Homo sapiens: one gene and its partners. The protein of the gene in region 1 purifies or fractionates together with the protein of each later gene. This does not show direct contact. Each region holds a gene or a part of one and is shown in the gene's direction. Other genes may lie near its edges. The genes, in order: PTTG1IP, SLTM and NSDHL.

The links.
Region 2: the proteins of PTTG1IP (region 1) and SLTM fractionate together in Homo sapiens (co-fractionation; one large-scale study listed by BioGRID). This does not show direct contact.
Region 3: the proteins of PTTG1IP (region 1) and NSDHL fractionate together in Homo sapiens (co-fractionation; one large-scale study listed by BioGRID). This does not show direct contact.

What each region holds. Positions count from the first base shown.
Region 1 is NC_000021.9:44,863,568-44,867,217, reverse strand, and holds part of PTTG1IP (pituitary tumor-transforming gene 1 protein-interacting protein isoform 1 precursor), read left to right. Parts: intron 1-1,770; coding exon 1,771-1,823; intron 1,824-1,829; exon of another isoform or gene 1,830-3,250; intron 3,251-3,348; exon of another isoform or gene 3,349-3,425; intron 3,426-3,650. UniProt on the Homo sapiens protein: May facilitate PTTG1 nuclear translocation.
Region 2 is NC_000015.10:58,881,560-58,885,209, reverse strand, and holds part of SLTM (SAFB-like transcription modulator), read left to right. Parts: intron 1-1,423; coding exon 1,424-1,584; intron 1,585-3,650. UniProt on the Homo sapiens protein: When overexpressed, acts as a general inhibitor of transcription that eventually leads to apoptosis.
Region 3 is NC_000023.11:152,858,483-152,862,132, forward strand, and holds part of NSDHL (sterol-4-alpha-carboxylate 3-dehydrogenase, decarboxylating), read left to right. Parts: intron 1-287; coding exon 288-434; intron 435-3,650. UniProt on the Homo sapiens protein: Catalyzes the NAD(P)(+)-dependent oxidative decarboxylation of the C4 methyl groups of 4-alpha-carboxysterols in post-squalene cholesterol biosynthesis. Also plays a role in the regulation of the endocytic trafficking of EGFR.

The sequences.
Region 1 (3,650 bases):
CAAAGGAGAGACACGTAAAACAGCCTTTTGTGTTTGGAATGCCTTTTCCAGAAGATCCCTTGATACGAGAGCCGCATGTTTGCTATTCTTGATGCCCTGCTGGTATCGTGTGAGTGTTCCAGTCTGTCTGTCCACCCTCCTACAGAGTGACATCTGGGCTGTGTTCAGCTTGGGGCTGTCACGGAGCCTTCCTGCGCAGGTCCATCTGTGGATGCAGGCGCCTTCTCTCCTGGATGAAATACTAAGAGTGGAATTGCTGAGTCATAGGTGGTCGCATGTTTGTTTAGGAGCAGCTGCCAGACCTTCTTTGCAAATGGTTGAGCCATTTACACTTCCACCAACACTGTGTGAGAGTTCTGTTGCTGTACATCCTTGCCAACATTTGGTATTGTCATTCTCTTTAATTTTAGCCATTCTGGTAGGTGTGTAGTCATCTGTCATTTGGAGTTTTAATTTGCCTTTGTCTGGTGACTGGTGATGAGCACAGAGCTCTTTTCAGCGTGCACTGTGTTTGTGTGTGTGTGTGTGTGTGTGTGTTATGGGATTGGAGTAGGCAGTCTGTGTGTGTGTGTGTGTGTGTGTTACGGGATTGGGGGAGTACGCAGTCTGTGTGTGTGTATGTGTGTTATGGGATTGGGGGAGTAGGCAGTCTGTGTGTGTGTTACGGGATTGGGGGAGTAGGCAGTCTGCGTGTGTGTTACGGGATTGGGGGAGTAGGCAGTCTGCGTGTGTGTGTGTGTGTGTGTTATGGGATTGGGGGAGTAGGCACTCTGTGTGTGTGTGTGTGTGTGTGTTATGGGATTGGAGTAGGCAGTCTCTGTGTGTGTGTGTGTGTGTGTGTGTTATGGGATTGGAGTAGGCAGTCTGTGTGTGTGTGTGTGTGTTATGGGATTGGGGGAGTAGGCAGTCTGTGTGTGTGTTACGGGATTGGGGGAGTAGGCAGTCTGCGTGTGTGTGTGTGTGTTATGGGATTGGGGGAGTAGGCTGTGTGTGTGTGTGTGTGTGTGTTACAGGATTGGGGGAGTAGGCAGTCAGCTTGGTTGCATGTTGGAAGTTACTCATGCAGTCGCTCTTGCTTCTGACTGGCTTGAGTTCCAGAGCTGTTGGCTGCGTGGAGTTTGACCCCTTCCTTAGTAGCAGCGCTTTGAGTAGTGGGCAGAGTCTCAGGGTGTTCTGTGTGGTTGGAGCAGGCTGGTGTGCCGGGCCTCTCCCTTGGTACAGGTTGGTACAGGGAGCATAGCCCAGTCTGGAGTGAGGCTACCAGGGGACTAAGACCTTGCTTTGTCACATGAGATCTGTAGGTGAGTCCAAAGACACAAGTGTGCTGCGTGGCAGTGTCGCTGGCGTTGCTGTGGCCTCGGATGGAGGCTCTTGGGTTCCCAAAAGAGTGCCTGCTGATGAGCAGAAGGTCCCAGCAGGTTTGTGGTTAGTGATTACACAGCCACAGGGCACACTTCCTCTCACAGAGAGATCTGAAACACAGCCTTCTGTGTTGGCACTCTTCTCTCCCAGAAGAGCCCTTGTGGATAGGAGCCGCATGTTTATACTCTTTGTGCCCTGCCTGCAGCGGGGTTCCTGAACACTCGTTCCACATGTCTTGAAGAAGGCTTGTTATCAGCAGGGGCTCAGGAAGAGGACCTTCATTTGGTAATTCCACATCAGAGGTTCTTGGTGCCACACCCCTCACTGGTGCCCACCCTGCCCTGCTGGACTAATATTTACACTGCCTGATTCTCAGTGACTGACTTGTCTCTTGCCTCTTTCCTGCAGCTTGTTCTCAGAACACAAACAAAACCTGTGAAGAGTGCCTGAAGAACGTCTCCGTAAGTAGCACGTGGACTAGAGACCAGAGTGCCGTCCAGACCGTCCAAAGGCACACGGGCTTTCTCTAGGTCCAGGGATTCGCTGGGATGTGTGGAGGGCTCTGTTGTTTGGGATTTGGGGGGATGTTTTTTGGAATCGTTATCAAATGTTATTTTAGCCATTTCAGGTATATTAAACCTTCTCATGAAAACTGCAGTTACTGTCTGAGCATGGTCAGTATCCATGATTTCACTCCTATGCAGATGGGGCCAGCACTGCGTGGCCAGTCTTCCTAACGAGGCCCATAGCGAGAAATTTGGCTGTCCGCAAAGCTACACCCTCAGGTTGTGAGCCCGTGTTTTCCCAGGCTGTCGGGCTGCAGCAGAGACTGCTTTCTCAGCTGCTCACACAGGATTGGAAGGGGCACAGCAAGGAGAGAGAGGCACCAGCCCTCTGGGCCGGTGGGCCAGGCTGTCCATAGCACTCTCTGGTCGTGACCTGGGGCTCAGGTTTGGATTTTAACTACCTGTGTGACCTTCAACAAGAGGGTAGCGGTCTGGAGCAAAGTTCCCTAAGCCTCCACGGCATGAGGTGGGGCCCGAGACTCCCCGGGGTGCCTTCCCGATGGAGACTGATGCAGATGCCCACCTGGAAGAAGGAGCACCCGTGGTGGGGAAGCAGCATCACAGTGCAGGTCTTGTTAAAGACGTGTGAACAGGGCTGGGTGCAGTGGCTCACGCCTGTAATCCCAGCACTTTGGGAGGCCGAGGCAGGTGGATCACGAGGTCAGCAGTTGGAGACCAGCCTGACCAACATGGTGAAACCCCGTCTCTACTAAAAATACAAAACAATTAGCTAGGCGTGGTGGCGGGTGCCTGTAATCCCAGCTACTTGAGAGGCTGAGGCAGGAGAATTTCTTGAAACCGGAAGTCGGAGGTTGCAGTGAGCCAAGATTGTGCCACTGCACTCTAGCCTGGGCAACAAGAGCAAAAAACTGTCTTTAAAAAACAAAAACAAAAACAAAAACGTGTGAACAGGGTCCTTTGGTTTTCTCTGCGTGGTGGCCTGCGCCTGGGCCAGCCTGGCTGGCACCTCTTGGGCTTGCCTTGCCACGCAGCTCTTGGTTCGGCAGCACCCAAGTCTCCTCGCAGCGCTATGAAATCAGCACGGGAAACCTGAGGGAAGGCCCACGGCAGCGGGAAGTGGTTAGGCAGAAAACAGCATCCTGTGGGGCCTTTTTCTTAGGATTCCTGATCTCGCCCACCCCTTGCCCCTTCCAGTCAGGAGTTTACCAGGTTTTGAGAACTGCAGGGCCAGAGGCTTCCTTTCCCCGGCAATGAGGTTTCATGATATGAGGAGGCCGGGAAAGATGTATTCGATGATTTCTATTCTAAGGCATGAGCCATGTTCTTAAAAACTCTTCTTCCTCCACGAGACCGTAGCGTAGGTTTGAGGAGGCCGGGAAAGATGTATTCGATGATTTCTATTCTAAGGCATGAGCCATGTTCTTAAAAACTCTTCTTCCTCCACGAGACCGTAGCGTAGGTTCGAGACACACCCTGTCAGTTTGTGGGACTTAAGTGGATACTTGCATTTGCTGATTAAAAATTGAAAGACGCTGTTTCTGTGGTTTCAGATCTTGACATTGGTGATGTTGAACCTGCTCTAATGCGCCTGGTCCTGGTGCATTTTCTAGATGGTGCTTCTTTTTAGTCTCTGGATTTTTCTATTGGAAGTCATTTCAGCTTTAAACATAGCTCACTATTGTATGTGGCTTTGTAGCCTAGAGTGCGTTTTTGCCATAGTACCCTGTGTAACCCTCACCACCCTGGGCAGGGTGTGGTGAT
Region 2 (3,650 bases), on another chromosome or scaffold:
TTTGTGTTTGCTACTCTGTTTTCCATAGTTATGGATGTAGCACCTTGTAAGTGCCATAGCACTAAGTAGTACAATGTAAAATAAGTTCACAACTCCTGTTTGCTGTGCTGTCTGCATGTTGTCCTGATAGGCTGATCATAGGCCCTGCCGTGCCTTGTCTTAAGGTTTTGATCTCTGGCTGTGCCTTCTTACAGTCAATATAAGATCCAAGTATTTGAAATAATCAAGGGTCAAAAAGCCCTTGGGTGCTAGAAAATACAGAAATACAAATTAATGGCCAGGCCTGGTGGCTCGTGGCTGTAAACCTAGCACTTTTGGAGGCCAAGGCGGGAGGATTACTTGAGGCCAAGGGTTCGAGACGAGCTTGGACAATATAGTGAGACCCCCATCTCCATAGGAAAATTAAAATTAAAGATGGGCATGGTGGTGTGCACCCTGTAGTCCCAGCTAGGCAGGAGGCTGAAGCAGGAGAATTGCTTGAGCCCCAGGAGTTCAAAGTTGCAGTGAGTTACGGTAGCAACACTGTACTCCAACCTGGGCAACAGTGTGATCATGTCTCCAAAAAAAAAAATTATTTTTTAAAAAAAGGAATTGGCCAGGTGTGGTGGCTCACACCTGTAATCCCAGCACTTTGGGAGGCCTAGGCGGGCGGATCATGAAGTCAAGAGATCAAGACCATCCTGGCCAACATGGTGAAACCCCGTCTCCACTAAAAATACAAAAATTAGCTGGGCGTGCTGGTGCATACCTGTAGTCCCAGCTACTTGGGAGGCCGAGGCAGGAGAATCGCTTGAATCCGGGGGGCGGAGGTTGCAGTGAGCCGAGATCGCGCCACTGCATTCCAGCCTGGCAACAGAGCGAGACTCTGTCTCAAAAAACAAAACAACAACAACAAAAGTATTAAATCATTTCCTCCATACCCTTCCCTGAGACCTGAGTAGCTTCTCACTACAAAATAGATATAAACTCTTTTCATATGCTGCTGCACTACTCATCCTTTTATCTTCTCAGACATCTTATTAATTTGCTTCTGACATTAAAAGCACACCAATATAAGTTGGTATGAGACCAAGACTGAGGGTATTGTGACTTCTCCTTTTTTTTTTTTTTGAGATGGGGTTTCACTCTTGTTGCCCAAGCTGGAGTGCAATGGCGCAATCTCAGCTCACTGCAACCTCTGCCTCCCGGGTTCAAGTGATTCTCCTGCCCCAGCCTCCTGAGTAGCTGGGATTATAGGTGTGGGGTACCATGCCTGACTAATTTTTTGTATTTTTAGTAGAAACGGGGTTGCACCATGTTAGCCAGGCTGGTCTCGAACTCCTGACCTCAGGTGATCCGCCTGCCTCAGCCTCCCAAAGTGCTGAGATTATAGGTATGAGCCACTGCGCCCGGCCAAGTGACTTTTCATATGCTATTCTTTTAGCACTATCCTGAGGAGCGACATGTGGTTGAACGCCATGGACGGGACACAAGCGGACCAAGGAAAGAGTGGCATGGTCCACCCTCTCAAGGGCCTAGCTATCATGATACGAGGCGAATGGGTGACGGCCGGGCAGGAGCAGGCATGATAACCCAACATTCAAGGTAAATAACTAACCAGTTTTTCTGCCAGCACACAACCAACACTTTATCCTTTCCATAAAAGTCATTATAGTTTCTGAGAGACTGAATTGCAACTACTGAAAACCCTAGATCTGCCTGAACATTTCCCTGTATCAACCCGTAGTCTCCAAAAGAGTGTTTGCAGAACAGCTGATATTAATGTGTTAGTTTGTATTCTTCCTTTTAAATGAATTCAGTGACGTTCTGGCAAGTTGATATAGATATGGGTATGTACGTATGGCAGGATCCAGTAAACAATGAATTCTTTTGTTTTGTTTTGTTTTTTGTTTTTTGAGATGGAGTCTCACTCTGTCGCCCATGCTGGACTGCAGTGGCGAGGTCTTGGCTCACTGCAACCTCCGCCTCCTGGGTTCAAGCAATTCTCTCATCTCAGCCTCCCAAGTAGCTGGGATTACAGGCATGTGCCACCATGCCCAGCTAATTTTTATATTTTTAGTAGAGACAGGGTTTCACCATGTTGCCCAGGCAGGTCTCGAACTCCTGACCTCAGGGGATCCGCCTGCCTTGGCCTCCCAAAGTGCTGAGATTACAGGCGGGAGCCACTGCACTCAGTCTAGATAATGAATCTTAACCTCACATTGGAACCATCATCTTGTTCTCTACCTAGCATTCCTCAAATTCTTAGGAAGAAAATACTGAAAGTGTGTTCTGTTTCCTCCCTTTTAAAATAACTCTTGGGAAGGCTTTTAGACATTTAACACAAAATCTCTTCATACGTTAAGAGGCGAGCTTTACTTTCTCTTCACACTGAGGTCGGATGTGGCCCTTCAGCCAGCAGGTCTTCAGCTTCCCCATCTCTTTCATGTCCTCCTTTCTTTCCCATTCCTCTTTCTTAGGAGAGTTATTGGCTTGACTCAGTGACCCAGGTCACTACTATTCCATGGTCACTTCTACCATCAAACTTCAGTAAGTGTGCTACTTCTGCCTGCACAAGCTCAACATTCATTGTATCTGGTTTGTAAAGGTCACCGATGACTTTTCTCTTGATAAATATAGATTCTTTTATTTTCATGGTTGTCAGACTCCTTGGTGGTTAAACACTGTTTCACACGGTCACTTATCTTTATTTTGAGGGAGTCTGTTTTCTAGGGCACCATCATTTTCTTTCTGCCTTTGTGACTGCCTTTGCAGGCTCCTTCCCGTGGCTAAGCTTTAGACACTGCTGTTTCCTTTCAGCTTCATGTTGCCACTGCCATGTAAGTGCTTTGCTGTTTCCATGAATTCAAGGTCACAGTCAAACTCATTCCTCTCCTTTTTCAAACCTTTGTGTCCCTTTTGTTGCCTCCAGTTTCTTTCAATTTGATAGTGCCACCATCCATTTCATTCACCCTGACTGGAAATACGGGGCTTGTCCTTACCTTTCTTCATTCCTAGTATAAATTTCTAAGTGTGGTTTTTTTTTTTTGAGACAGAGTCTTGCTCTGTCCAGGCTGGAGTGTAGTGGTGCAGTCTCGGCTCGCTGCAACCTCTGCCTCCTGGGTTCAAGTGAATAGCTGGGAATACAGGCGTGCACCACCACGCCCAGCTAATTTTTGTATTTTTAGCAAATGGGGTTTCACCATGTTGGCCAGGCTGGTCTTGAACTCCTGACCTTGTGATCTGCCCACCTCAGCCTTCTAAAGTGCTAGGATTACAGGCATGAGCCACTGCGCCCGGCCGTGTGGCTCTATTTTTTTTTAAATGTTTCTCAGGCTGGGCACAGTGGCTCATGCCTGTAATCCCAGTACTTTGGGAGGCCAAGGTAGGTAGATCACTTGAACTGAGGAGTTTGAGACCAGCCTGGGCAACATGGTAAAACCCTGTCTCTACAAAAAGAAAGTTTATCATAGCTATCCCTTATTCCTCATTTTAGCTTCTATCTGATCTTCCCAATTATTGTGTTCCATTACCCCATTTGTAAATTGAACTGTTGAAACTCCCATTTTATTATACCATTTATTGCTCTAAAACCACAACAAGCAGCTGCTCCAGGTCACAGGATTGAGCCCAGATTCCTCAGCCTGGCCCTTATAATCTAGTTTTATTCT
Region 3 (3,650 bases), on another chromosome or scaffold:
ACCACCCAAAAGGATGTTGCCTCTGTGTGGATCCCACAGGCTTCTCATGCCCCAAACCCCTTTTGACTGGGGACTAGTTAGTGGGGAGAAGGTGATTAAAGGGACAACTTGGTTTCCATCCCATGTACTTCGGTATCATTGATTCTTTTATGAGAATGTATTTCCATATTGATTATAGAATTATAAGACAAGGAACCTACAAGCCACAGGTTGGAGGGTGAAAACATGAGAATGCCATTGACCTGTCAAAGCAGGAATGATTATTTTGTCTTTCTTTGCTTTTCCAGGATCTGTACCCAGCTCTGAAAGGTGTAAACACAGTTTTCCACTGTGCGTCACCCCCACCATCCAGTAACAACAAGGAGCTCTTTTATAGAGTGAATTACATTGGCACCAAGAATGTCATTGAAACTTGCAAAGAGGCTGGGGTTCAGGTAAGGGGAAGGCTGGAGTGAGTGCTGTCAGGAGCACGTGATGGCCCTTTCTAAGGGTGCAAGGCCGTAGTTCTTGCAGTCTCCCTGGGCCTAGGCGGGGTTGCTTCTTAAAGTGTTGGGAAGATCTTAGAAATGAAGCCCTTGGAGTCACTGGAGATGGTGAAGGTCTGCTTGCCAAGGCTGATTTGAGATGTAATATTCTAACTGCACACAAATAGAACATCTGAGGACCTCAAGCCTATTGGCCTTCAGTTAAAGAGCTGCAGAACTTAGACATTGCTTATATTTTTATTGTGATAAAATATATATCACATACAATTTACCATCCTAACCATTTTTAAGTGCGGAGTTCAGTGGCATTAAGTACACTCACAATGTTGTATAGCCATTACCACCATCCATCTCTAAACCTTTTTCTTCTTCCCTAATAAAAACTCTATACCCATTAAACAGCAACTCCTCAATCGCCCTTCCCTACCCAGCCCCTGGCAACTACCCTTCTACTTTCTGTCTCTATGGGTTTGACAACTATAGGGACCTCACAGAAGTGGACTCATGTAGTATTTCTCCTTTTGTGTCTGGCTTTTCACCGAGCATGATGTCCTCAGGGGTCATCCATGTTGTAGCATGTGTCGGAATGTCCTTCCTTTTTCAGGCAGAACAATATTTCATTGTATGGATGGGCCACATTTTGTTTATTCATTCAGCCATGGATGGACATCTGTGTTGTCTTCACCTTTTGGCAATTGTAAACAATAGTGTTATGAACACAAGTGTACAAATATCTGTTCAAGTCCCTGTTTTCAATTCTTTCAGGCATCTACCCAGAAGTAGGGTTGCTAGATCATATACTAGTTCTACGTTTAACCTTTTGAGGAGCCACCACATTGTTTTCCAGACCTTGCTTATATTTTAAAAGAAAAGCAAACTGTGTTTACCCTTAGCCAATAGAAACGTGTTATAACTCAGGCCTGAGGGGATACGAATTTTCTGCCCATCATAGCTTGCTGCATCGTTACCAATCCTGGTTCTTAGAATTGTCTTTAGAGGACTCCAGCCACTGGCTAAAACGGCTCCCTGTCAGCTCAGTATCCTGACCCTCACAGGGATGCATGCCACAGGTACTGCATAAATTAAGAGAAAAACTTGAAGCAAGCCAGGGGGTTCCTCTCCCAACAACCTGTCCTGGCACTGTTGGCTGGTCCGCAGCATCCTCAGCCGGCCCAGCAGGGTTGGAGCTCTTCTGGGCTTGGGCCCTGGAAAAGATCACTTATAACTGACCCCTAGCAGTTGACAAGATGCTTTGCCCTGCTGAAGTTTTCACCTAATTAGCTCCTCGTTGGGTGACCAGGGGCTAAACGATGTCTCTTTGCTAGTAAATGGGAGAGGTGGGGTCAAAGCAGATTCTCCAAGTCCCAGACTCTGCACTCAGCCATGCTGATGTAACTGGAGCCCTGGGAAGGGCCCTGCTGCTCTTTGTTAAATGGAAGGTTGGGGGCATACAACAAAGATTTGTGCCCCAGGTGTGGCGGCTCACACATGTAATCCCAGCGCTTTGGGAGGCCAAGGCAGGAAGATCCCTTGAGCCAAGGAGTTCAAGACCAGCCTGAGCAACATAGCAATACCCCACCTCTACACGAATTTTTAAAAGCCAGGTGTGGTGGTATGCACCTGTAGCCTCAACTGTTTCGGGACGCTGAGGCAGGAGGATCGCTTGAGCCCAGGATTTTCAGGCTGCAGTGAGCTGTGATCCCAACACTACACCCCAGCCTAGGCAACAGAGCAAGACCTTGTCTCTTAAAAAAAAAATTAAAAAAACAACAAGATTTGAGAATAAAACAGCACCTCTCCACTCACCACAGCATTTAAGAAACAACATTACTGGCATGTGTAATGTGTGCCCATCCTCGATGCCATTGCTCTCTTCTTGTAGCCATGGATAGCAATTCTGAATTTGGGTTTATTTCCATTTGCTCCATGTGTAAGCAATATAAAGTATTGGATTGCATGTTATAAGATTTTATACAATGATATCTTATTGAACAGATCCTCCTGCAACTTGCTTTTTTCCCCAGTGTTATGTTTTTCTTTATTCATCTTGGCATATGTAACTCTGGTTTATTTACTGAAGGGGCAGAGTGGCTTAGTGGGTAAGAGTGCAGAAAGTGATTGCTGTGTTGTATTGAAGGAACATTTTCCAACACTGAGATCAAAAGATTATTTAATGTACTTTTTTTCCTCAAAGGTTTTAAGTGTTGCTTTCCACATTTCAGTCTTTAATCCACCAGGAATTTATGTTTGCTTATGGTGTGAGATAGAGATCTAACTTTCTTCCATGTGTATAACCAGTTCAGTGCCATTTATTGCATAATCCATCCTTTCTGCATCGCTGCACACCATCTGCAGCATGTCTTAGGTGTTTGTGTCTTACATGGGCCTGTTCCCAGGCTCTCCCCTCTGCCCCATTGACCTCCCTGTCTGCCCATGCAGAGAAGCTCTGCCTTTTTAGGATAAGTCTCAGTGTACCGTAGATAAATCACGCCCCCAACCAATTTCTTCAAACTTCACTTGGCTATTCTGAGCCCTTTGTTCTTCTACATATGTTTGGCTTAACCAGTTCCTTGCTAAAGCCAGCTGAGACTGCTGTTGTAATTGTGTTGAACTTGTAGGTAATTTTGGAGAGAATTGACATCTTTCCCATATTGAGTGTTCCTGTCCATAAATATGGGATATGTTTCTGTTTATCTCGCTCTTTAATGTCATCAATAGAGTTTTATACTTTACTTCGTAAAGATTTTGCATATCTCGTTAAATTTATTTGTATGTACTTCGTTTTTTGTTATTTAATAACTTTCTATTACATTTTCAGTTATTGCTAATATATAAGACGAGTTAATTTTTGTATATTGATTTTTAATTCAGCAACTTTGCCAAACGCTAATATTTTCTACATATTTGCCTGTGTTTTCTGTGTAGATTTTTCTCTCATCTGTAAGCGATGGAAGTTCAGTTTCTTTTCAAATCATTATAAATTCGTGTTTATCTTACCCTACCACTCTGGCTAGAGCTTCTCATACAATGTTGAATAAGAATGGGAACGATATGATTCATGCTAATGGTGTTCAGTGTTGGATGAGCTTCTCTTAACCAGCAGGCTGGACGCTGGGGACCCTCATAAGAGAATATCTTCCTTTAGAATAGCATTTCTTAAGAGGT